Linked DNA regions of Homo sapiens: all the other regions are linked to region 1. The links come from fine-mapping of genetic effects on gene expression. A gene starts in region 1. Each other region holds a variant in brackets. All regions are shown on one strand. Distances are from middle to middle. Region 1 holds the start of GALNT8 (polypeptide N-acetylgalactosaminyltransferase 8). Region 2 overlaps KCNA6-AS1 (KCNA6 antisense RNA 1). Region 3 overlaps NDUFA9 (NADH:ubiquinone oxidoreductase subunit A9). Region 4 overlaps KCNA6-AS1 (KCNA6 antisense RNA 1).

Region 1 (5,272 bases):
TGTGGATGTGGTGGGCATGGCACTGCAAGGTTTTCAGTGGCATTTGGCTGGAGTAGGGCAGTTGTTGTCTAAACATCTTCTGTCTTGCTAGGCTTCCCATTTCCTGTTTCTTTGGTTAGAGAAAGCAGCTTTTTCTTGGGGCTTCTATTGTCTCTGCCCATTGCATTTCCAAGTTGTTGACTGCTCCAGCATCCAGCAACTTGGAATCTATTTCCTACAATAGCTAGGATATCTGGAGATCTCTAGTCAGCCTGCCCTGTTCTCTCTACCTTTCAGAGTCTTCTTAGGTTTGTTTTACATATCATGTGTACTTTTTACTTGCCTTGATGGGAAGGAATAGAGAAGATAAATGTAGGTATTTCTTCTTGTCCCAGAAGCAGAAGGGTTATGCTTTTTTGTTTGTTTGTTTTTTGTAGTTGTTGTTGTTGTTGTTTGAGATGGAGTTTTGTTCTTGTTGCCCAGGCTGGAGTGCAGTGGCGCGATCTCGACTCACTGCAACCTCCGCCTCCTGGGTTCAAGCGATTTTCCTGCCTCTGCCTCCCAAGTCGCTCGGATTACAGGTGCCTGCCACCATGCCCAGCTAATTTTGTTATTTTTAGTAGAGATGGCGTTTCACCATGTTGGCCAGGCTGGTCTTGAACTCCTGACCTCAGGTGATCCACCTGCCTCGGCCTCCCAAAGTGCTGGGATTACAGGCGTGAGCCACTGCGCCTGGCTGGATCATGCGTTTCTTATGTTTTGAGTCTAATTTGCAAGTGGGAGGCTGGGAGACATTTTCTATCCCTGCGAAACAGAAGAAGTGATTCCTTTTCATTTTGTTCATTTTCATCCTGTTTTTCCTAAAGCCACATTACTTTCCTTTAATCCACATGTCCGCCTCAGCACATGTCACCATGTGCTGTGTTTGGGACGTAGTAAATAGTCCAAAGAGCCAGGCCGGGGTGGAAGCTGTGATTTTGACGGGATTGACAGTAGACTGAGAACTTTGAACTTTTAGCCTTGGGGAACAATTTTATGTGTTTATTCTACAATGATGATCACTGGTGATTTGTCCAAAACATATTATAAGTGTGAGGTGTGGAGGCAAAGGAGTTACTGGAAGCTGGGGCAGGGCAGAAGCCCAGTGTATGAAGTTGTGCAGAGGACAAGCAAAGGACAGAGACCAGTGAATCGGAGTCATCCCCTGAGGCTCAACCCCGGGCACCGCCTCCAGCTCTTCTCCACCTGCTTCTAGGCAGTGAAGTCCTAGGAACTAGCAAGAAAGTCTGTCCTTAAGTTTGTGGGACAAGCATTTGTTGCACACCTACTATGTCCAAAACCCTGTAGAGTTAGGTAAAAAGACATCTTAGATCCCAGCTCTCCAAAAAAGCAAGGATCTAAGTGTACAGAGACTTCTTGCTTCGTGATTTCTTCTTCATCCTATTTATCCCCTTCTTATACCCACAGGACCAGACCTCACATGCCCTATCAGAGTCTCCCAGGTGGTTTTTCCAGGGAGAGAGAACATTAAACATCAAACAAACATATATAGAGAAAAGCCTCTCACCCAGGCAGCCTGAGCTAGCTGCAGGAGCAAGCATTCTTCTGACTTCTGAGACAGTACAAGGTGTGTCCAGGTGACTTACCTGTCACTGGGCAGCTGCCATGCGCACTCCTCACACCTGACGCTGCTCAGGGAGAAGCCAGGCAGCTATAATAGTGTTCTTGGCCGGAGAACATCTGGCCTAGCAGGCAGGGTGTCATCTATGAAGCTGGGTGGAGAGAAAGCTGTTGGGGAAACCAGCCCCACACCACCCAGCGGATACCCCGAGTCCGGCGGAGACAAAGGAGTTAGAAAGAGACAGAACAAGCGTTTAAAAGGCAGGTCCAGGGGACCAGAGCGTTGGAGGCTTGCTCACGGCCCAGAGCTCTGGGCTCCACCCAATTTATTGGTTTACAAGCTCTTTGTTCTTAGGGCAGATGGGAAGGGGAGGAAGGGATGAGGAAAAGGATTAATCAGTGAGTCATTCGATAAGATGTGTAACAGTGGCGGTTTCTGTGAATTTCCTTGAGCAAAGGCGTGTGTCTAAACTACTTAAGATCTTTAATGACTGAAATGGGTGGGAGTGGGTTTCAGGAGGAGCCAAGATGTTTGATTATACTCCTCTGCTTCAAGGGAGTGTTATCTCCCTGAGCAACCTGTGGAAAGCCGCTGAGCAACCTGTGGAAAGCCGCTGAGCGGTTATCCTCTCGGGGCATAAAGACAAAGAAGGCAATAAGGAGACTTTGCTCCTCAGAGGCCACCCGTGGCTTCCCATGGGTGTCTCACACAGGGGAGACCAACTCAACTGGCACCTAGAACTCTCTTTCCCACAAAAGCTAGGCTGGTTCTGATTCTTAACCTGCTCCAGCAGTGACACACTCAGTCCCACAGGGAGTGGACGACCCCCAGGAAGAAGATGATGTTTTGGAGGAAACTCCCCAAAGCCCTCTTCATTGGGCTGACTCTGGCCATTGCTGTCAATCTCCTTCTGGTATTTTCTAGCAAGGGGACTTTACAAAACCTGTTTACGGGTGGTCTCCACAGGGAGCTTCCTTTACATCTGAATAAACGCTACGGGGCAGTGATAAAGAGACTCTCCCACTTGGAGGTGGAATTGCAGGATCTGAGTAAGTTTACAATGCTAACCTGGAAGGTGTGTGTGTGGGTGTGTGTGTTTGGGGCACTTAGGAAAAAGGGATATGGAAGGAAAAATGGGTGAGAGGTCACATTTTCATCTCAGTCGCTCATTGAAGCATCTGACACTGAATTCTGTGCCTTCAAATGGGAGATGGGTATTGAGAATGAAGTGAGTAGAAGTGGAAATTAGAGCAAGCAGTATGGGGGAGGTGAGCATGTGTGTGTGTATGCGTGTGTGGGCTTGTGCACATGCATTATCATTATATCTACATATGTGCAGGCAACGAGAAGAATAAGAATCCCAAGGGCCATAGACCTGTCCTTAGGCCTATTGAAGGGGTGGGTTGCACCTCCACACCTGTGGGTGTTTCTCGTTAGGTGGAACGAGAGACTTTGGAAGAGAAAAAGACACAGAAACAAAGTATGTAGAGAGAAATAAGGGGGCCCAGGGGACCAGCGTTCAGCATACGGAGGATCCCGCCAGCCTCTGAGTTCCCTTAGTATTTATTGATCATTCTTGGGTGTTTCTCGGAGAGGGGGATGTGTCAGGGTCATAGGATAATAGTGGAGAGAAGGTCAGCAGATAAACACGTGAACAAAGGTCTCTGCATCATAGACAAGGTAAAGAATTAAGTGCTGTGCTTTAGATATGCATACACATAAACATCTCAATGCCTTAAACAGCAGTATTGCTGCCCGCATGTCCCACCTCCAGCCCTAAGGCGGTTTTCTCCTATCTCAGTAGATGGAATATACAATCGGGTTTTACACCGAGACATTCCATTGCCCAGGGACGGGCAGGAGACAGATGCCTTCCTCTTGTCTCAACTGCAGAAAGGCGTTCCTTCCTCTTTTACTAATCCTCCTCAGCACAGACCCTTTACGGGTGTCGGGCTGGGGGACAGTCAGGTCTTTCCCTTCCCACGAGGCCATATTTCAGATGGTCACATGGGGAGAAACCTTGGACAATACCTGGCTTTCCTAGGCAGAGGTCCCTGTGGCCTTCCGCAGTGTTTTGTGTCCCTGGGTACTTGAGATTAGGGAGTGGTGATGACTCTTAACGAGCATGCTGCCTTCAAGCATCTGTTTAACAAAGCACATCTTGCATAGCCCTTAATCCATTTAACCCTGAGTCGACACAGCACATGTTTCAGGGAGCACGGGGTTGGGGGTACGGTTACAGATTAACAGCATCTCAAGGCAGAAGAATTTTTCTTAGTACAGAACAAAATGGAGTCTCCTATGTCTAGTTCTTTCTACACAGACACAGTAACAATCTGATCTCTCTTTCCTTTCCCCACGCCTATGTGTGGTAGGGGCTGTTGAAGAGAGGTGGCAATCTCTGGGGCAAGGGCCTCGCTTCCATTTTGCGGTGTGCTCCTTTCATGAACTAATGAGGGCTTTGTTAGAGGACCTAAGATCGAATCCTGATGTGCCATTGTGGTTGTGTGACTTTGAGCAAGTGCTTCTCTCTCTCAGCCTCAGGTTCCTGGTCTGTAAATGGAGATGATGATAACAATAGTGATAGTTATCAACCTGACCTAATAGGGTTGTGAAGTAGATGCAGAAGGTGATCTATAAACTGCTCTGTGCCAAATTTTAACCTCCTCATTTAAACTTAAGGGTAAGATTTCAACACATTCTGGGGTTTGTTTGTGATTCCGGCTCACCATGGAAGTCTAATGCCTCTGAATTTTATGTGCCTGTGCATCCAACTTCAGCAAGGGAAGCAGCAATTTCCCCCTGCTCCCAGGTAACAGGGATCAAATGCTGGAACCCCATAGGGAGGTGTTTTATGTGTGGGCAGGGATGTGACTGCCCAGGTGTGTGCACATGGGGCTGGAGTTGGGGAAAGTGTCTTTTAAAATGAGAACTGAGCATTGTCAGGGTTCAGGGTGAGGCTGGGAGATGGGTGGAAGGAAAGGCAGGAAGAGAAAAAGGAAGGGAGAGAAGAAATCAGGGAAAGAGCGAGGAGAGTGAGAAGGGAGATGAGAGAGGAGAAAAGAGCTGGGACAGGAAAGGAGCAGAGAAGTGAGGGAGTCCAGGGAGAGAGAGTGAAAGAGTTTGTATGGAGACAAGAAGAAAAGAAGGGAAAGTGTGATGGGAGAGAAGGAGAGAATAAAAGGAGAGAGGAGGAGTCCTAAGGCACCCATAGCACCTTCCACGTCCTCCTTCATAAGACTCATCATATTTTATTATGGTACAGTTTTATGGAAAGCAAGTTTCATAAGTGCTGTTTCCATGAACGTCTCATTCACTACTCATTTCTATTCATACATCGAAATTCCATAGATGAATAAATGAGTGGGTGTGTCTAGGAAAGAGAGAGAAAAAGACAGGCAGACAGGGATGAAGGGAAGAGTGATACGGGGCAAGAGAGTGGATGAAACAGAGGGAAGATCATCAGCTCCACAAGCCCTGGCTTACCTGGGTGGGTCGGACATTGCCCATGCAAATATGCTTGGTGCAGCTTCACCAGGAGGATGCCTGTGTACCTAGGGTGGTGACCCCAGCACCACCCTCACTATTTGGCAGAGCACCCAGACCACACCAGGACTGTCTCACCCATCCCCAAGGCTCATCACACTGGCTCAGCCTCCTCAAGCCGTAAAA
Region 2 (5,272 bases), 98 kb after region 1:
TTGGCCCCAGATAAGTTTTGGGGGATAATAGAAATGCTGTGAAGCAGGATTGTGGTAATAATCATACAACTCTAAAAATCGCACCCCAAAATCATTGAATTGTGAAAAAAAAGAAAGCAACGAGTCTAATAATCTGGGAGTTTTCCATCTGGGCTGGGAGAACGGTTTGGTCCTATAAATCTAGAAGCTTAGCATGTCTAAAAATGGACCAGACAATATCTAGAATAGAATGACAGTTTTTTTCTTCTGCCACATGGGGACACTTTAGAGCTTATATGCAGTCGATCGTTGCTATTCATGCACAATACCACGAACTGGTGTGTGTGTGTGTGTGTGTGTGTGTGTGTGTGTGTGTGTGTGTGTGTCTGTGTGTGCTTCGTTTTGACATCAAATTGTTATGAGAGTTACATGCTTTTCTCTTTTTTCTTTTTTTCCTCTAAAGATATGTCATGCCATTTTTTGGGTAAGTGCAGGGCATAATTAGCATGCACTGAACTATGATATATATGTTGAACATTATTCATTATACAGGACTACGGTCTTGAGCTTGCCCAGGGAACTTACACTTTGCTGGCAAAAAGAAAAAAACTCCAAGAAAAGTTCCCACAAACTAAAAACCCCACCAAATCCCTGCACCTGTAAACTCAGAATTCCTTAAGAGATTGCATAGGGCCCAAGGTTTTATGTATTTATCTACTATGGTTATTATTTTATTTTTGAATTTTTTGAAATTTTTTTTGTGGGTACATAAAGGTTTTATTTTCCCTGGCCCCCTACCTACAGTCCCTCTACAGTCGTTATTGATGCTTAACAGCCCTATGAAGAGGTCCCAGCAGTCTTTGGTGCTTCCGGTAAACAAAAGAAGTGGACGGTAACGGCCTTCATTTGTCTTACTGAGCCTTTCAATGATTCTCTCCCAGACTCTGATCCCCTCTTGGCCTGCTTTGCCTTGTGCCCACTGGACCCTCCCTTCCCTCTCCTTGGTGCTTTCCTCAGATGCACCAGCCAGTCCTGTGGCTTGTCATTTCTCCTCTCCGCTGGCTGAGCCCTTGCTTGCAGCAGCATTTCTATCTGCCTGCAACTCAACATACATTCCAAGATAGATTCCCAGAGAGCGTGGTCCTTCCAGGACAATCTGGCTGGAGCTGCCATCCTGGCTCACATGGGTTTTGACTGTGTGTTATTGCCATGGGAAGGAAGTGGGGAGGAAAGTGTCCTCCAATCCTACCTTGTCACAGTCACTTAGGGGAGGAAAAGAATTCCATTTACTAGGTGGTAGGAGTTCCTCTCTCCATCCCGCTTCATATTTTGCCTTGGGTTGCACAGATAGCTCATGGCAGAACAGGGTCTGGAGCTTGGCAGTTGGCAGGGAGAGGGATCTTCCCAGACATAGGCCGCGGGGAAGAAAGACAGATGGGCTTTTAGCCTCTCATCTTGCCAGGTCTCCTGATGAACCACTTTCCTGTGCTGGCCTTGAGTGAGTCTCTGTGGGGTTGGGAATGGTCATGTTTTTCATGTCCCTTTGTTCTGAACTTGAGAAAATAGTTCACCCTGCCTCTTGGTCTTCTTGGTCCTCATCCCCTGGCTTCACCTGGTACCCTAAAGGGGGAGTGGAAATCTATCAGCCACTGCCTTTGAAGGGTTATCAAAGCAGCTGCTGTGTTTGAAGGTGCACATTAACAATAGGAGAGGGACTCCCTCATTTTCAGAACAAAAGAGGAAAGGTTCCTACCCTACAGGAAGTATCATTCGCACTGGTCTAACCTTGGCTATCACTTGACCTGTTTGGGGACTAGTCCTGATGGGATTTATTACAATTTTTTTTTTAATCCAACTCCAACCTCATCATTGTTACTCTAAAGAGAATTCCTCACTCCTCGGTCACGAGCCTCAGCAGATACACTTTACCTCCTCCTGGAAAACATTTTGGAATCTTAAGCAGCTTCTGCTGCAGGCTGCAAGGAGCGCAGACAGACCCTGGCTCTTTGGTGAGAGCAAAGGCGACATTTCAAAAGGAAATTGCAGCCACGCAGTCTGCTGGCGCTGCTATTTTTGACATGCTTGCTGTTCTCTCAGGGCTTGACAACCGCTGTCTCCAGGAGACAGACAAACCTGCTCTTGGCAGCAGAGACACTGCTTTGAAAAAGAACATAGGAAGACAGTCCTGCAGCTGGGAGGGGCGGGGAGGACTTGCCACTGGAAGCGTGGCACCTGGCTAGTGGGGCTGCAGATCTGAGGTTGCAGGATTTATCCTCACCTAGGGAATCCTGACCTTGCGTTGCATCCTTCCCACTGGGAATAGTCCTAGCAAGAATAAGAATGGTGCTATTCATTTACAGAACATTGTCAAACACGTTCAGTGCTTTCAGACATCGTGCGATTTAACAAAGGGTTTAAGAGCATAGTTGCTGGAGCCTGATCGTCGCGGCTCAAATCCCTCCTTTGCTGGGTAACATGGGGCAAGTTATGAAACAGTTCTGTGGCCTCAGTTTCTTTCTCTGTCAAATGGAGGATAATAATAGTACCAATCTGATAGGGTTGTTTTGAGGATTAAATGAATTAATGTATGTACAGTGTTTAAATGTACAATGTCAGCTGTTATTATCATCCTGCAGCAGTGAAATGAAGTAGGTAGGCTAGGCTTTGTTTTTTTCTTTGGCAGATAAGAAAACTGAAGCTCAGAGGGGTTGTGATGTCTTTAAAGGCACACAGTAATGTGTGTTTCATCCTCTTCAGGGGAGATGGAACAGAATGGAATGCAGTGAGGGTCTAACTGTTATTGGGCAAGAAGAATGAAGCCATAGCTCCTAAATGTGTTTATAGACTTCTGTTTACATGCCAGCTTGTCTCTGATGGAGCAGCAGCAGGTGTCCTGTGCTTTTGTTCCCTATGGGTCCCTGAAAGT[GCA/G]CACACACACACACACACACACACATATGCATATACACACATACGTATATACACACATAAATATATATACATACATACACATACATACATACACAAAAACACACACATACACATATATACACATATGCACACACAAAACCACATATACACACACGTATATATACAGAAACATGAATATACATATGCACATGTATACACACGTATATGCACACACAAACATATACACACGTATGCACAGGCACATACATGCATGCTTATACATATACCCACGTATATACACAAACACATATGGTGCTATATATTCTATATGTGTGTAGCATATATACGTGGAACATCTTTCTATGGATCCCTTTCTCAGTACTGCCACTGATCTCCCTCTCCCATTTTAACATTCTCAGTGGTTGACACTGCATTCGAGTTTTCCTCACACACCTGCTCCTGCCTTCTTCCTTGGGAAGAATGCAGGGTCTTATAGTTAGCAGAAGGGACAGAACCCACAAGCCAGCCCCTGGCCCAGAGTTTTCCTACCCTGTTCCAGTGGCTTTCAAACTTCCACTGTCCTGGTCCTCACCGTCAGCATGCATTCTTTTCCCCAGTCACCTTCACGGCCCCCTTTGCAGGTGGGGGTACCCCTTAATCTCCCGTGGCTGTGTTTCTGCTTTCCTGTCCTTCTTTGAGGTGGAGGAGACAGGAGGCCTCGTAGTTGGAAGAAGCCAGCTCCCCTGCCCTTGTGGGTCTCCCCTGGCCTTCACTCCACCTAAAGAGCATTTATGACATCTCTTGTTAGGGGTCTTGGCACGGGCCAGATTGCTGTCTTCACCCTCAGCTCACTGCCACAGCCACTACGGCTTCTTAACAAAGGTCCTATCCCAGGGCAAGGTGACGTGGCTGCCCTCATGGTTGAGGATTCTGAGCTTGCTGGCTTGCCTGCCATGGGAGTTGGAGAATTGGTCTGAATCACTGTTTATTAGCTGTACCTCATTTAACCTCACCGAGCTTCAGTTTCGTCATCTGCAAAATAAGGAAGCTAACATCACTTGCCTTACACAGTTGCTGTGAGATTCAGAAGAGGCAGCCAGTGAAAGAGTTTAGCAGGAAATAAACTCTTAGCAAAGCATGGCTCTTCCCACTGCCAATCAGCAGAGAGACCCTTAGAGACACCAAACACCCATCCGAGAGTGGGGCCGAAACTACCTGCACGTCAGAGAAAGGCAGGGTCCCTGCCAACTGCAGTTTTGTTCTCTGAAATAAACATTTAAATGAAATATGACATAAAAAATAGACTCAGGATAGCTAGCTATTTTTACCAGAAGGCTCTTTGCCCAGAGGATTCACAGCAGAATTTCTTTAAATAATTGCCCTTACGGTGTGATTTAATATACAGAAATATAATCTGAATATATCTTGGAAGAATAGGATGGATATACTGGTAATATGTATATATTTTAACAAAGTTTGTTTCCAGCCAAACTAGAATGAGAATTCTCACTTAACCCTTCCCTCAGGCCCTGGAGCATTGCAGAGGGTCACAGATGGAGGGGGCAGTGAATGCCTCTTTAGGAAGAAGGAGACTGATGCAGAGAAGTGAAATAATTTGCCGAAGATCACACAGGAAATTAGGGGCAGAGTTGTGCCTGGGACCCAAATTTTCTAACTCCAACTCCAGCATATTTTCCCATGGGAAATGGAACTGTAAGGATTACCTAAACACACACACACACACACACACACACACACACACACACACACACACTCTTAAAAATAACTCTTCATTTTCTACCCAACCAAACTCCTTAGCAGAGCTGCCCATAGAAAATGGAATTAAGTGATTTTAACTTTTATCTTTCCCTCCCCTGAGTTTCCAGGGCACAGAGGCAGTGAGCCTAGCTAGAGAAGCCCAGAACCAGATGACCAGCTTCTGGATTTTTAAGGGAGGACTAATGACTGAGGGCTAGTGCAGACCAAAGGTATTTAGCACTGGACAAAGAGAGGCTCATGTACAGGCTCTGGGCTTCTAATCTCACTGATTAAGGGATTCTTTAACCTCTTAAGGCTTTATTTTTTCTGTTAAATTTAGTGACTGGACAGAAGGAAACTGTCATAGATTGGAAATCAGGAAGTCAAGGGGTTATCTGAGTCTTCTGAATTTTATAGCGGAAAGAAGGGATGCAGAAGGCCAGCATCTTACCCAGGAACGCTGACTTCTGATGCCTTGGGAGGCAGAAACCAGTTTCTAGACTCTTCCCTGCACTTTGTTGCCCCGATAGAGAAAGAGAAGTGACTGTCAGTTACAGAGATCTTTTACAAATCACAGGACCAGGGTGAGGAGGAAGAACGTGTCCAGAAGGCCTGGTGGTTGAGCCAT
Region 3 (5,272 bases), 37 kb before region 1:
CAGTAAATGATTCTGTAAGTAGCATTGAAGCAATTGGCTTACATCTTGGGAAAAATATAATTACATGTTTACCTTATATAATGTACAAAAATACGTCACAGAAGGAACTTTATAGTAAAAAAAAAATCTTTTTTATAAGGTTTAGACAAAATATGTAGAAATTTATGTCACTGCAGAGGAATTTTCTAACTATGAATCCAAGCCATAAAGAAAATCAGTAGTTTTGGTTAAATTAAACAGTTAAAATTTTATGTGCACAAAACACTGTAAATAACACTAAAAGTTAAAATACAAACAATAAAAGGTATTTCCAACAATATCACTAAAATATAGAGAATTCTTACAAATTATTTTTATAGACAGGGACTCCAGGAGGAAAGAAAAGATAGATGTATAAATGACCAAAAATTCGTGAAGAAATGATCTCTCATATTAAAGACATAATAATTAAAACATGAGATACCTTTTTTTTTTTAACCTAGCAGATTGGCAAAAATTTTATTTTCTTATGACAACTCATTTCGGGTGGAGGGGGCATTCTTATATATAATTACATATATATAATTATAATTTATATAATTATCTAAAATGTTATATACTTAACATTTTATATAAATTGATAGAACCATTTTGAAAAGCAGTTTAGAAGTATTCAATAAAAGCCTTAAAATTTTAAAGTCTACATTGACCCAGTTCCACTTCTACAAATATATTCTAAATGCGTAATCATGGATAAGTACAAATATTTATTACAAGAATGTTCATTAAAACATTATAAAAGAAAAAAATTTTAATAGCATAAATATCTCAAAACTGGCAATTGATAAAATAATTGTGATTACATGCAGTGTAATATGTTGTCATGAAACATGCAATAAAATAATGATGTGGAAAGACGATTATGATGTAATGTTAAATGAAAAAGACATTACGGAATAGAATGGATTGTGTATTTATTAAAAGCAGAATAATGTATATATGTAAGGGGATGAGAAGGATATAGATCAAATATATTAACTATCTTTCATAATGGGATTATGGGTGATTTTTCTTTGTGCTATTCTGTATCTACTACAGTGCATATATGTTTCCTTTTTTATAAGGAAAATGTTATTTTGTTATAAAGGAAACTTTGTGAGAAGCGTGTAATTGAAAGAACTGTGTATTGTCTTTTTATAGTCCCAGTCGGTACCTCCTTTTCCACCTGGTGAAGTACATCTTTGCTGTGGCTCACAGATTGTTCCTCCCATTCCCCTTGCCGCTTTTTGCCTATCGGTAAGTAGAGTGCTCCTTTTGTGTGACTTCTGAAAAAGCCAGCTCCACACACTTGTTCCTAATGTTCTCCCTTAGGGTTATAGGGTGTGTGAAGGGCTGGTCTCCAGATCTCCTAGTGTTATGACATTAGCATAGAGAAGAAGCAGAAATAGATTAGTGTTGGTTAAAAAAAAATATATTGGAACATTAAATCTTCCCAATTCCCAAAAGTGAATCTTCCCACTTCCCAAAAGTGAAGATGCAGTTCTTCACTTTCTCCAATTTAAAACCATCGAGTTTAATTTTGGAGAAATATCTTGCTAGGCACATATGTAAGGGGCAGTCAGGTTCCCCTGTGTTTCATGTCGCTCATTATTAAATCAACCTGATCATGCTATTGGGGAAAGGAGTCAGGCTAATTCAGACTTGGATTTGTGGTTGCCTTCTCTTCTTTCCCTGCTTCTTAGTTTACTTCTTCTCTTTGTGGGTTAAATATCTTTGACTTGGCTGGGAGTGGTGGCTCATGCCTATAATCCCAGTACTTTGGGAGGCCAAGGAGGGCAGATTGCTTGAGCCCAGGAGTTTGAGACCAGCCTGGGCAATATAGCGAAGCCCCATCTCTACAAAACATACCAAATTAGCTGGATGTGGTGGCATCTGCCTGTAGTCCCACCTACTGGGGTGGAGGTGGGGTGATGCAAGAGAATTGCTTGAGCTTGGGAGTTCAAGGCTTCCAGTGAGCTGAGATTGTGCCACTGCACTCCAGCCTAGGTGACTGCTACTGCGCACAGTGGTGCACACCTATAGTCCCAGCTACTTGGGAGGCTGAGGTGGGAGGATCACTTGAGTTCAGGAGTTTGAATCCAGCCTGGACAACATAGTGAGACCCTGTCTCTGGAACAAAAAAAAAAAAAAGAAAGAAAAGAAAAACCTACTGCCCTGAGGTAACTGTTGATGGGAGCTCCTTTCTCGTCCTAGGTTTTATATTGTCCTGATTTGAACCAAATAAAATAAAATCTTGAACTTACCATGTCACACCCTAGTGG[T/C]CTGGTTAAGGAGACTGTCACATCCATTGTGCCACAAACTGATCTTCATTTGGGTTTTCATCCATTCATTCAACAAATGTTTATTGAATGCCTACTATGTCTTAGATAATGTACTAGGTACTCAGAAGGTTACAACAAACACTCAAAAATCTTATGGTCAGAATGTTACAACAAAAACTCAAAAATCTTATGGTCTAACAGGGGTACCAGAAAAATAGACCACTAGAATGCAGGGTGATAACGATATTTATTGAGTGTTACACCTTTCAGACTATTCACTTTGTCTCCTTTAATACTCAGTTATCTATAAAGTAAGTAAGGAGAGTATGTGGAGTGAGTGGAAGAGGAGGCCACAGAGTAAGAGAAACTTACAAGAAGGCCAAAAAGTGATCAGGCATTTAAGTGGGAAATGAGAGTTTGGAATTCTAGATACCAAAGGGAATGGAGTGTTTTCAGGAGAGAATCGATGTTTTAAGAAGGGGAACATTGCTGTTCATTCACATGTATCTCAAGCCCCTAGAACAATGCCTGGTACACATTAGGCACTCTGTTAATATTGGTAGAATGAAGTCTTACAGAAAAGTCAAATAAGATAAAGGACCAAAAAATGTCTACAAATGACCATTGTGACCGTGGCTTCAGTGCCGTGAAAGGGATATAAGCCAGATTGCAGTGAGGCACTTTCATGGTTGTATATAAAATTGAGTTAGAGTTGGCTTATGTATGCCCATGACATGGCCCACTGAGGACACTAGAATAGAGACCTGAAGTGATCTGTTAGCATAGAATGAGGGCACAGAGAGTTAGAGGTTTGTAATGAGTGTTTTTATTAAGCTATGTTAGCCCAATAAATTATTTTTTTCTGCCGTTGAGGAATCTGAGGCTTTATATGTTGCTGGAGAAATTCCAGCCAGCTTCCTTTTTCATTTATTTATACTATGCATTAGAATGTTGTTTTTCAAGCCTTTAAACGGCTGTGGAACCCTGTGCTCACTGAAGTTTTACGTCAAGTCCTGCTGGGTAAATCCAATAAAAGAGCTGGTCTGGTTGCAGTGATGGGTGATACTCAACGCATGTACTCCCAAACCCTTGGCCCCCCAGGACTCTGTGGGGCCCCAGCAAATTCCTAGTGTTCCTCAGATGCTAGTTGAAAACCCACTGCTACTGGGCACAGTGGTGTACACCTGTAGTCCCAGCTACTTGGGAGGCTGAAGTGGGAGGATCACTTGAGCCTGGGAGTGTGAGTCCGGCCTGGACAACATAGTGAGACCCTGTCTGTGGAACAAAAACAAGGAAAGAAAAGAAAAAGTCACTGCCCTGAGGTAACTGATGATGGGAGCTCAAGTGGCACGTAAGGAGCCCTTCAATTTTCATTAGCAGTGAAGAGATGGCAGTAATGAAGATAGGTGGCCTTTTCCGTTTTGGGTTTTATATTGTCGTCCTGATTTGAACCGTAGATTTTAGCCTTCTCCTTGCTTTTGGATTTTTTTTTTTTTCCTCAAGGGCCCCAGCTTTCAGGGGTTACGTTGTATATTTTACACACCATTCAGCTTGCCCTGCTTCTGTAAAGGCAGCATATTTGAATATCTGAGGTTTAGATTAAATTGAATTTCACAGACTTGATTAAATACTGGAGTTTTTCTGTTTGCTTTGTTGTTTGTTGGTTTTATTTCATTTTAAGTTTAAGATCTGTTGTTTCTTTGGAGGAGAACAAAGTGTACCAGCAGTTACAGCAGCCGACTGGGTTGGCTTGAGAGGAGATGGACCAAAAAGCAGAGGTAGCCTCACAGGTCGAGGTGGTTATTTTCTTAAAAAAAAAAAATCAGTTCAGACTGCTCTACAGCGGTCTGTCTTCCTGCAGTTCTCATAGGCTAGCTTACATCTTGGGCAGAGAGATGCTTATCACATGTGCTATATGTATTTCTCTTTCCAGATGGGTAGCAAGAGTCTTTGAAATAAGCCCATTTGAGCCCTGGATAACAAGGGATAAAGTGGAGCGGGTGAGTACATGTGTGGAAAGCGTCTGCCTGGGCAGATGATGAGGCGTTAGACTTATTTTGCTTTGCCTGCTTGCTTGTTTCCCGGCCCTTGTCTGTTTGCTGTTCTTGCTGTCTGCAGTCAGCCCCTCTACTAGCGCTGAAGCTCATCCACCTGCCCTGCTCCAGGGGGCGGCTCCTCCCTACTTTCTGTCCGTCATTATCAGTGTTTCTTTCTCTGCTTGATCACTCCTGTCAACACACAAAATTGCCTAATAGCTCCCCTGCCAAAGCCTCTCTTCCTCCCATCACTCTTCCAGCTACTTTCCTGTTGTGTCCCTTCACATCCTAACTCCTCCTAACTTCCTCCTAACGTCCTGAAGAAACTGTTGACAGTTTCTTCCTTCTTTCTTTAACCTACTCCAGTCAGGCTTTTATTCCCATTTCTCCCCTAAAATTGCTCTTTTCAAGGTTATCCACAATCTCCAGTCTCCTTGCTGCCACATCCAATGGTCAGTTCTCAGACCTCATGTCATGTGCCTGTGCATTTGCTTCTAGGGAGGATGCAAAATAAAATAAAAATACTATACCAATACCACATCTACCTTGGAAGACCTATGGACCATATATTGGCAAGAAGTAGCCAAATTGTCCCCTGAATGCTGCCTGAAAGCTAAAGTGTAGAGAAGATGAGAAAGTAGTGCTTAGGGAACATGTGGAAGTGGGCAACTCACATACTTTCTTCAGACATGGTCTATGAAAGATCAGGCAGGATCGCTGGTTGTCAGACACTTCAGTTTATCTTACACTAAAGTGTCTCTTACGTTTATACTTGAGAAAGTGTTGATACAGTGGCCTGAGTAGGTTTTGGATTTGGTTTGCAGACTGGCTTACAGCCCTCTGGTAAAAGAATTGCAGACTTTCAGGTGGGTAGGATGAGGGATTGCTGCTGCTCTAGGTGCAAATGGATTCTATTTATGTGGTTTTGAATAATAA
Region 4 (5,272 bases), 83 kb after region 1:
GTCACTGGTCCATAACGACTCTGAAATCCTGTGAAACACAATTCGACCCTCACTTAGCTGCCTGGGAGTAGATCCCAGCCCACCGTTCTCTGCTTATGGATTGTCCCTCTGGAGGGTCTTCTTTCTGTTGCCCTCCTTGCTCCTATCAGAGATGGGAATTGCAGATGATATTGAGCAGCTTTCTTGGCCGGCTTCTTGTCCATGATAATTTAGGGGCCCAACGGTACATTACATTTTGAAAAGTCGTGAATGGTTTCGTTCAGGTCATGGTTCCTTTGGCAGGATGACTGTCTGAAAATCTTCTTAGGCTTTTTCCTATGTGTTTCGGGCAGATCTATGTACTGATAGCCAATAACCACACCTATGGTTACAGTTGTTATCCTATTCTAAAGGAGCCATTGTATGTCGTGCTATGGGATAGAGGCAGATAATTTGTCTTTTGGGTTTTTAAGTCTCTGAATTGCAGAAATCCATATTCAAAACTGATGTAGAGACTAGCACATGTCACTCCTTAATATAAAAACTACTACGCACTGCTAGAGAACCTAGCATTTCAGCTTGATACCAGGACTGGGTAGGACTTTGGGGTTATCTTCCTTAGGGAGTAGGTAAGTGTATTTTGCCTGGGGGAGCCATGGTTCTTCTCAACTTGAACCTAACAGCAATAATTTGGGTATATATATTATTTGTGGGATGTTACAGCTTTAGTCTTGTTTTTTCTCTCGCTCTTACTTGAGCCAGTTTGCCCAGTTTGAATGATTTTTTGAAGCCATAACTTCAATTAAACTTTTGCCCTAAATGACTTATTCCATTCAGAGGAACTGACAATGGACATGACTGCCCTGTGCTTGATTTGTTCCATGGCATGAGCTGAAGCACTCATCAGTCTTTCTTGTATAAAGGTCTTTTAAGTTTTGTTTACTTCTTTGGGGAATGAGAAGCAGCTGTCTCTGTCTACACTGAAAATCCCCACATTTCTGGACTCTCTCCTGTCCATTTCATCTCTGCTTTCTGGCCAAATCTTTTCTGAACTCATCAATATCTTGCACTACATTGTCAGATGCAGCCAGCAGTGGCCACCATACAATATAACAAGCTGTTTTTCAACCATCTTCCTAGATATGCAGGATTTTAGGGATATAATCTGCTTTCTAAGTTATCACAGATGACAGTTTTCAGAATATTTTTCCATTTGTAACATGGATTGCCTGCAATGGCCTCCTATAAAATTTCTTCAATACCTGTCATCTGGCCACAGAACCAATGTCACAAGTATTTTTTTAATTTTTAAAATTTTATTTATTTATTTTTTTGAGACGGAGTCTCACTCTGTTGCCAGGCTGGAGTGCCGTGGTGCAATCTCAGCTCACTGCAACCTCCGCCTCCCAGGTTCAAGCGATTCTCCTGCCTTAGCCTCCTGTGTAGCTGGGACAACAAGTGTGTACCACCACACCCAGCTAATTTTTGTATTTTTAGAAATTGGGTTTCACCATGTTGGCTGGGATAGTCTCGATCTCTTGACCTTGTGATCTGCCCACCACGGCCTCCCAAAGTGCTGGGATTACAGGTGTGAGCCACCATGCCTGGCCATGTCACAGGTTTTAACTTTTTACTTTTGGCAGCTTCTTACTTCAGTTTGGGTAGACTTGATTCTGCTATGGGAAGAAATCAATCCCTGAATACCAGAGGATTAGAGCAATAAGGGTTTGTTTCTCACTTATGCTACTATTGCTTCGGCTGGGGGCCAAGCTTCCTGCCACCTTACCCTGTAATGCAGCTCACTCTGACAGAGCAGCCACCATCTTGAACAAAGCTGGTCATTGTGGCTGGCGTGAAGAAAGCTCTGGGGGCTTTCCCATGAGGAATTAAATATTTTGGTTCAGAAGTGACACATACCACTTCTGCTTATAACTCACTGTCCAGAACTACTTGCCTGGTACCACACAGCCACAAGTGAGTGAGACAGTAAAATTCTCCATGTTCCTGAAAAGTAGAGAGCTGGAGACATTTGGAAAACAGCATTAATGACTATCACAGGAGGAGAATTGGATGAAGATGTAGGCTGCAAACTTAGGATACTAACAAGCTCTCTTGGGATCCTCCCCGAAAGGATAAGGAGTTCGTTATAGATTTATTTCTTGGCATGGATAGTAATTTCCTGAGGCTGTTGATTGGTGTGGCACAGATGTCTAATGCATTTCTTTTCTAATATACAGCTTCACCCAAGCGAAAGCTGTTAGATTTTTCTCTACTGAATTATGGAACATCATCATCACCATCACTACTTTGTAACTGACATCATCGTCCTCATTAAAAATTGGACTAAGCAGCTAATTATAAATAGTGCTTTTGTATAGCACATGTGTTTTCATTTGTCCCCCTGACTCCATCCACTTGGCCACAGGGGAAGCCCAGGAGGAGGGAAATGGCCACAGTGCATCCAGAGACGAAATGAATAGAAGGGAACTTCAGGTCAAAGCGTTGTGCTATCAAGTGTTGGCAGGGAACATCAATGAGTTTGTGGAACCAGTGGGTGCTACTGCAGGAAATTAACCCTCGAAGTTCAAGATATCTGACTTCTTTTTAATGTAACTCTCAGATGACCAAATTTTT[G/GGTGTGTGTGT]GTGTGTGTGTGTGTGTGTGTGTGTGTGTGTGTAGAAGGAGGGGAACAAAAGGAAAACAGCAAAAATTGACTGCAAAGTATAGAATTACCCGGTCATCCATTTTTCTCCCCTTCTTCCCCAGGATTCAATGCTGTCTTCTCTCTCCAGCAGAAAAAGTAGGAGAAGGTTAAGAGAAGGAGTAAACATGACCCAGACCCTGGGGAAAGGGGTGAATGAGGGGACCAGAGAAGGGAGTTGGGCCAGGCAGAACGCTGTGTTTGGACAGAGGAGCTTCCACTTGGAACACGCTGAAGAACCAAAGCTCGAGGGCAGAGCCTTGCCCAGAGTGAGATGGTGAGAGGAGGGACACGGGCTCAGACTCATCACCCCTGCTTCTCACTGGCTCTGAGTGGTTTGGATTCCACAGTGGAAAGCTCAAGAGTGGGGTGGGTCATTCTAGGGAGGGTGTTCCGTGCTTGTGCACAAGTGTTGTGTTCTCTCAGTAAGAGGTAAGGGAGCTGACGACTCGCCACCCTGTCCTCAGAGCAGGGGCCTGTGGGTGACAGGACCATGAGGAGAACCATTTTCAGAGGTTACACAGAGAAAGAGGAAAACTTCAGGGATCGTATTACCAGAATGATGACAAGTGCACACACACACACACACACACACAGCAAAATAAAAATGTAAAGAAGCCTGGAAGACAGATCATTTATGTCATTTATATACCTGGAATAGGTACATTTTAGAACCTAGGGCAGAGGTCAGAATATAAATGGTTATCACACAATGCTTCACATTATCTGTGCTCATCTTGTGGGCACATACGTCCATTCTTAGGTGGTTCTTCCCATGGATGCCCCCCACGTACTCCTGACCTGTTGCAGATCATGTGTTCCACTGGAAGGCCAGCGTGGGCCCAGGAGGATGGGGCCCCTGGGGTCTAGTCCTGGTTGTTGGTTTCCAGGAGCTCTCCATCTCTTGGCTTTCCTTTGACTTCACCTACAACCCCTCAGCCTCCTATGCTGGCTGCCCTTCCTCCTGACCTTGACCGGTAGATTGAAGACTGCTGTGAAGGACTTGGTCCTGGTCATTTCTCCTCGTTGTCCATATTCTGTTTCTGCAGAAGACCTTGGTGCCATGAATGTATATATTTCTAGATGTCTTAAATTCATAAATCGTAAGTTTCTTTTTCATATTCCAGACCTAAATAAATAACTGCCTCCTTGATGTCTTAATTTGCATGTATAATTTCCCTCTCCAATGTAAAACATCTAAAGGTGAGGTCTTGACGCATCCCAACTTGTTTAACCCCTTGTCTTCCCTTTCTCAGTAAAGGGCGACACCTACCTGCCTAGTTGCTTGAGCTTGGCATTGGCTGCTTATTTCTCATGTTTTATTGATGACTAATTCCTGCTGATTCTATCATCTAAACATACCTCCTCAGTTCTCCTCACCTCCTCTCCACTCTATCTCTACTGACTCTACCTTTCTCTGGCCCAAGTCACCATCATCTTTTCCCCAGACGACTGCAATTTCCTGGTCTTTCTATTTCTTCTTCTACCTCTTCATAATTCATTCCCCTCCCAGCCTCTAAGTAAATCACATCACGTCTCTCCTCTGCTTGAAAACCATCATTGGCTTCATACCGCCCTTAAGATAAAACCTGAACACCTCACCCTATAAGATGGTACCCTTGCTAATTCTTCAATCTTATCTTGCACCTCCCTTTCCCTTGCCCATTCTCCTCCCAGCGCACGGCCTTCTTTTTGACCTTGAACACCCATGACCTTTCTAGCTCAGGGCTTTTGCACTTGTCAGTCTGGAATGCTCTTCCCTGCATTTGGCACTGTGGCCCCATTCTCTTATCTATTTTTGAGACAGAATCTCCCTCTGTCACCCAGGCTGGAGTGCAGTGGTACAATCTCGGCTCACTGCAACCTCCACCTCCCAGGTTAAAGCGATCCTCCTGCCTCAACCTCCCAAGTAGCTGGGACTACACGTGCCCTCCACCATGCCCAGATAATTTTTGCATTTTTAGTAGAGACAGAGTTTTGCCATGTTGGTCAGACTGGTCTTGAACTCCTAACCTCAGGTGATCCACCTGCCTCAGCCTCCCAAAGTGCTGGGATTACAGGCATGAGCCACCGTGCCAGGCTCCATTCTCCTCTTTGGATTGTCAGTTGAAATACTACCTCTTCAGAGGGAACTTTTCCAGCTACCCTTGCAAAGTTGAGTCCCCAAGTTCATTTCTGACATGGCATCCCATTTATCCTCCTCAAGGCATTTACTGCAATATGGAATTATTTTCCTTATTGTCTACTGTTAAAATTTTCTGTCTATAATGTAATTTATTACATGAAAATGTATGCTTATCAAAGCAGATATTTTGTATAGATCACTGCTAAATCCTCAGCACCTGGCACCATGCTGGCACTCAGTAGCTGCTCAATATATACTTTTTAAATAAATGAATGATTGCTATGACCATGGCAAACATCTGAATCTGGATACAACAACAAAAAATAACAACAAAATCTGTGCTGGCATGAAATTGGTGCTTGGTGAATGCTGGGGAAAAATCCCCTGCCATTGGAAGCCACTTGGCAGTGTTTATGGATGGAGCTGTGTCTTCCTTCACCTGGGAACTGGCATTTCTGAAGGTGTGATTGTACTCAT

Evidence for each region. PIP is the estimated chance that this variant, and not a neighbour inherited with it, causes the effect.
Region 2: its variant is fine-mapped to the expression of GALNT8 in whole blood (INTERVAL, PIP above 0.99).
Region 3: its variant is fine-mapped to the expression of GALNT8 in lung (TOPMed, PIP above 0.99).
Region 4: its variant is fine-mapped to the expression of GALNT8 in whole blood (INTERVAL, PIP above 0.99).

Annotation. Positions count from the first base shown.
Region 1 is chr12:4,718,240-4,723,511 of GRCh38, forward strand. It overlaps GALNT8 (polypeptide N-acetylgalactosaminyltransferase 8), which reads left to right and starts at 2,161. Exons shown (of 11, transcript NM_017417.2): 1 at 2,161-2,649. The coding sequence starts at 2,439. GAU1 (GALNT8 antisense upstream 1) reads right to left here and starts at 1,863. Exons shown (of 4, transcript NR_110112.1): 1 at 1,626-1,863. RefSeq lists enhancers at 1,282-2,277, 2,278-3,273, 3,274-4,269.
Region 2 is chr12:4,815,933-4,821,204 of GRCh38, forward strand. The region is part of intron 1 of KCNA6-AS1 (KCNA6 antisense RNA 1); the gene reads right to left. It also overlaps a transcript of KCNA6 not described here. Among named protein-coding and RNA genes, the nearest start is that of KCNA6, 9.2 kb to the left of the region's middle. The variant GCA/G (reference allele first, on the strand shown) is at 2,906.
Region 3 is chr12:4,681,026-4,686,297 of GRCh38, forward strand. It overlaps NDUFA9 (NADH:ubiquinone oxidoreductase subunit A9), which reads left to right. Exons shown (of 11, transcript NM_005002.5): 9 at 1,180-1,275; 10 at 4,234-4,300. Among named protein-coding and RNA genes, the nearest start is that of NDUFA9, 35 kb to the left of the region's middle. The variant T/C (reference allele first, on the strand shown) is at 2,301.
Region 4 is chr12:4,801,190-4,806,461 of GRCh38, forward strand. It overlaps KCNA6-AS1 (KCNA6 antisense RNA 1), which reads right to left. Exons shown (of 3, transcript NR_199077.1): 3 at 3,296-5,272. Among named protein-coding and RNA genes, the nearest start is that of KCNA6, 5.5 kb to the right of the region's middle. The variant G/GGTGTGTGTGT (reference allele first, on the strand shown) is at 2,614.